Regions from separate parts of the Homo sapiens genome. Here region 1 is linked to region 2. The links come from fine-mapping of genetic effects on gene expression. Tissue or cell type: whole blood. Region 2 holds a variant in brackets; the other region holds the start of a gene. All regions are shown on one strand. Distances are from middle to middle.

What was found. PIP is the estimated chance that this variant, and not a neighbour inherited with it, causes the effect.
Region 1: it holds the start of KDM4B, and the variant in region 2 is fine-mapped to the expression of KDM4B in whole blood (TOPMed, PIP above 0.99).

What each region holds. Positions count from the first base shown.
Region 1 is chr19:4,968,064-4,970,746 of GRCh38, forward strand. KDM4B (lysine demethylase 4B) reads left to right here and starts at 1,050. Exons shown (of 23, transcript NM_015015.3): 1 at 1,050-1,167. RefSeq lists silencers at 514-613, 924-1,223 and an enhancer at 2,490-2,539.
Region 2 is chr19:5,163,195-5,165,877 of GRCh38, forward strand. No RefSeq gene overlaps it. Among named protein-coding and RNA genes, the nearest start is that of PTPRS-AS1, 13 kb to the right of the region's middle. RefSeq lists a silencer at 2,366-2,585. The variant G/A (reference allele first, on the strand shown) is at 1,229.

The DNA.
Region 1 (2,683 bases), 200 kb before region 2:
TCCAAATGGGGGCATGCCTCACACCCCTGCGTGGTCCAGTACACAATGAATGCTCATTTTGTGAAGTCACAGGGTCAAATCTTTCTCCGTGCCTCATCCCACTTAATCCTTGCAACATTCTCAAGAGGCGGGTAGACGGGGTGTGGCCACTACCATCATATCCATTGCACAGTTGGAAACAGACTCAGCGAGGTTACTTTGCTGGAGGTCAACCACAGTGAGGCATGGGGCCCGGCTTAGCTTTGAATCCAGGTCAGAAAGCACCAAAGCTCATTCTCTCCCATACATTTTAGGGAACTCGGGGAGAGGGACCCTAACTATTCCGAAGGCCTTGCCCCTTGGCAAAGGTTTGTTGATTGTGATGGGAATAGACCTACGGTGGCGGGGTGGAGGCTCTTGCTGCTTTACCCTATGTTCTCGGTTCTCCTCCTTTGCAAAACGGATCGCTATGTCTCCTTGCTTGGCACTTTGCAAATTGGGGAACGCTAAGCCCACATTCCGGCCACGGGTTTCGAACCTCCAGCCTGCACGTTCCCGGCCGGTGCTGATGCTGTGCTGGGTCTCACGTACTCAGCCGCCGCCTGATAACCAGGGCGGGGCCCGGAGCTTGCGGGCAGTGATTGGCACCTGCCCCAGCCTGTCCGCGCCTCGGGCTGGCCCCTCAAGCCAATACTGGCTCCTCTCTGTGCGGTCGTCGGGCGGGCCCTGAGGCTCCCTTGTCAATCCAAGGCCCAGCTGCCGTCGGGTTGGTCGCGGCAGCCTTGGCTGGCGTGCGCCCCCTCCAATGAGAACAGAGCCGGTCAGCGGGCACGTGGGTGGGCGCCGGCGTGTCCCCGCCGGTCTGCCAATGAAGAGGCGAGGCCGGCGTTTGTCCCCGCCCAATCGCGGCGCGCGGTGGGCGGGCCGTGCGGTGTTGATGGGCCCGGCGGAGGGGAGGGGCGGAGCTGTCAGCTCCGGCCAATGGGCGCTCGGGCGTGGATCCGGCAGCCAATGGCAGTCGGGGCGGAGCTGGCGCGCGGCCTTATAAGCCCCCCCGCGAGCGCTTGCGGAGGGCTCGGTCGCCAGCAACCGAGCGGGGCCCGGCCCGAGCGGGGCCTGGGGGTGCGACGCCGAGGGCGGGGGAGAGCGCGCCGCTGCTCCCGGACCGGGCCGCGCACGCCGCCTCAGGTGAGCCCACGGGGAGGCCGCCCGGCCGTGTCCGAGCGCGGACCCCGCCGCCATGGCCGCCCCCGCGTCGCGGCTCGGGGCTGCGGGCGCGCCCGGGACTCGAGGCCCAGGCCTCGGGCGCGGCCTGCTCGGGCCGGGCCTCGCGCTTTGTCCGGGCCGGCGGGGCGGTTGGGGCGTTAACCGCCCGGCCCGGGGGCGCCCGCTGGTTTTCGGGCGGGGGCGGCGGGGCCGGACAATGGCGGGGCGCGCCCAGGGGCGGGAGCGGGGGCCCCTTCCCGGGCCGGGGGCGCGCGGGGGCTGGGCACAGACGGCCCCGGCGCCCCGCACAAAAGATGACAGCGTGGGTGGCCCCGGCCGGGCCCTTTTATCACCCGGGACAAGCCTCGGCCTATTATTATTATTATTTTTGAAAGAAAGCAAGAAAAAGGAAAAAGACCCCAGCCCCTGGGTAACCCCCGCCTGCGTTTCTGGCCCTTTGGGCGCCAGGGGGGCTAAGGGGAAGCCCCCCAGCTGGACACCCAGGGATGCCCCCTAAATGCCTATCATTGCTCCTGCACTGCCCCCACCTCCGGTCAACCTGCTATGCCTTGGTAGCTTCCAAACTTGCCCCCCTGTACGTACCCGAAACCCCCACCCCGCCATAAGCATATGCAATCTGGATTTTAGAAAAAAATCATCTTGCTATGCAACGGCAGCCTCCACGAGTCTCTCCGTCCCTCCCCCTTCCAGCCTGATCGCCATCTCGAACGAAGCCCCTGCTCTAGAGAAATGAATTGAGGAGTTGCTTCCGCCGAGACCCCTTTTCTGTGTCCCCCGTGGACATCCCCCTGGGAGCTGGGGACGGACTCGCTCTGAAATCTGCTTGACCTGGGGTCTGCCAGGGCCCAGGTCTGCGCTCAGTGGTGGCCATGACAATCAGGCAGGACGGGGGACTCTGTCCACCTGGGCACGGTGGAAGGTTTTAAGGGGCATGTTTTCCGCCCCTGGGGGCAGTGGAGGCATGGACTGCTTTTGGGTGCATCCCATCTGTTTGCTTGGGGGAGGATGCTTCTGTTTTAATAATTTACCAGCACCCTGTGAGGAAGTGTTCCCCGAGTTGTGAAACTAGTGAGAAGGTGGTTCAGCTCCGTGGAGCCTAGTGATCCTGTCATATGTGAAGAGCGTCTTTTTCCATGTGTTTCTGGCTGGGGCGTGTATTCAGCAAGTTCCTTTGGGTCCCACCGGGTGCCTGCACTGTCTTGGGATCTCTGGATACTGGACTGAATTCAAGGGATCGGTGCCCTGCCCCAGTCCTCTGCCTCAATGGCCATTTATCAGAATGTCCCCGGGCTGGAGAATGCTCCTAAAAACAGCACCAGTCCTAAAGCAGGCTCATTAGACGACTCCTATGGGCTTTTATCACTGCCGTTATGGGAGCTAATGACTCCCCTAATTCTCCAATAATAGCTTCCTTATGAGCCACCAGGAGGGTTTGTCAACACACGGGGTCAGCCTTCTCCTGCAGCCCCTGCTGAAG
Region 2 (2,683 bases):
ATGTTTGAGGATCAGTTGACCCTCGAGAGAGTCAGGTGACAGGGGAGTATATTTTCTTAAGGCCTCCTATAGCCACTCGAGGAAGGCGGTAGGATTTTCTTCCTTTCCCTGAGTTGTGGTGGACATCATTGAATAATTCATGGGGTTTTTCCTAATTCTCCTTAGTCCTTCTAGAACACAGGTCAACAGATGTTTGCGACTCCAGTCCCCATGATCTGAGTCGAGGTCCCAGTGGGGATCCATACTGGGGATGGCTTGCTGACCAGTAGGGAATTTGTCCCTTTCTTCAGCTGTCATCCTATCATTTACTTGATTAAGATAAAAGGTATCTCCAAACTCTTGGGCTGCAGCTAAAGCTCCATTCTTTTCATTAAAGACCAGGGTTTGATCTAACAATAGCATGACATCTCTCCAAGTGAGGTCAAAGGTTTGCCCTAGACCCTATAGGACATCTGTATACCTATCAGGATCATCTGAAAACTTCCCCAGGTCTACCTTGATCTGCTTTAAATCGAGAGGGAGAAGGGACATGTACCCAGATTGGGCCAAAATCCCTACCCCTATAGCTTGAAGGGGACATAAATGATAGCCCAGGGGGTTTTGTGGTCCCTTGGAGATTTCTTTGCTTGTTTCCTTCTGGGTGGGGGAGATTAGACGAGGCTTATCCTTAATAGGAATGGGAGCTGTAGGAAGGCTAGGATATAGAGGTAAGCTGAGAGCTCCTCCTGTGGGATGTAAATTGCAAGCTTTGCATAGTTGTGGATTCTCCTTCAATGAAAAGAAAGCTTGGACATAAGGTATTTCACTCCATTTGCCTTCCCTCTTACAGAAAAAGTCAAGCTGCATGATAGTATTGTAATTTATACTTCCTTCAGGTGGCCATTTTTCCCCATCAGAGAGAGAATATTGGGGCAAGGCCATAGTGCAGAAAAAAAAAATGAGCCACCTCTTTTTCAGGGTTTCTGGGTCAAATTGGTCCCAGTGGCTTAGGATGCATTTCAAGGTTGAGCCTGTTGATGCCTGAGTGTTTCCCATGTGAAAGAAAAACTGCTCGCAGTTTTGGTTTGTTTTCCCCCCTCCCCCACCCAAGAACCTGCAACAGTCCCTGGACCCTGCTGATCGTAATAGTTGCGCTCACCGAAGCAGCAGCAGAAACACTAGTTTTCCTCCTAGACCACAAAGAGGACTGAGGAAGGTCAGATTTAGTGGCCCTTACTGATGCATTCTC[G/A]GAAACATGCATCCTTGCCTTTCCTCTTAGACCACAAAGAAGACTGAGAAAAAACAGATTTAGTGGCCCTTACCAACACATTCTCGAAGACCTGTTAGAGTCCTAAGCATTTTCTCCTGTTAGTATTGGGACCTTACCCTTGTTCTATAAAGATGTTATGTCTCAAAATGGAGTGAAGGGCCATACCCTGAGGGAGGGAAGGGATCTCTAGAGTGATGCCTTTTGTCCTCACTTCTCATCATGTGAATAGGAAGGATATCATTTCTGAGGCTCCCCATATCCTAGCTTTGGGAATAGCCTTTGTTAGGCCTGCTAGTCTGAGGAGGGATCCTAAAATTCCAGATAGTCTCCCCACTGACAGGGCTTTGGGCAAAGATTGTCTTTCTGATTGGTGAGCCCAGATGCCTAAAGAAAGGAACAGAGTCCTGAAATGTATACTAGAAGTCGTTCTTATAGGAGAAACTAGAAAAGCACCAGAGACAGGGAGTGGTTTTTAGAAACAGGACTAGCCTCGGAGAGGAGAGGTGGGAGGAAGTATGTCTGACAGGCATTAGGACCCAGGAGGCAAGGGTCAGGATAGATAGGATAAATGGGCAAGTCTCGCTTGGGTGACGTGACTTTGAGAGTTCCGCTCATGGCTGCAGGGTCAACCAACTTTTTGTCAGGGCCCTGGAGCTAAATGGCTTTCCTCTCTGTTGACACTTGGCTCAGTCCGGAAGTACAGGAAAAGTGGAAGCTGGTTCCAGGCAAACCAACGCTCCCAACTCCAAAGAGTTGGGGATTGTTAGAGAGCCCTTTCCCAGAAAGCCCGACACCAGTGTCTTTAGTCTGGTGGCCACGCTAGTTGCTTTTAACTGGCCGACAAGTGCCCGGTGTTTAGCCCCTGAATTCTAAGGAAAAATAGGACAGAATAGCAAGCAAAATGGGTCCGATGGTACTCACCAAAAGGCGATATCCCAGACAAGCCCCCAAGATGTGTCCAGAGTTGGTTCCTTCCAGTGGGTTCGTGGTCTCGCTGACTTCAAGAATGAAGCCGCGGACCTTCGTGGTGAGTGTTACAGCTCTTAAAGGTGGCACGGACCCAAAGAGTGAGCAGCAGCAAGATTTATTATGAAGACCAAAAGAACAAAGCTTCCACAGCGTGGAAGGGGACCCGAGCGGGTTGCTGCTGCTGGCTGGGGCGGCCAGCTTTTATTCCCTTATTTGTCCCTGCCCATGTCCTGCTGATTGGTCCATTTTACAGAGTGCTGATTGGTCCATTTTACAGAGCACTGATTGGTGCATTTTACAAACCTCTTGTAAGACAGAAAAGTTCTCCAAGTCCCCGCTCGACCCAGGAAGTCCAGTTGGCCTCACCTCTCAGTCTTATCAATTCTGCCAGCTGCTACTGAGCCCTTGCACTGTGCTAGTTTTTCCCAAGCCCACACACACACTGGGGAGCCAGACACTGAGGAT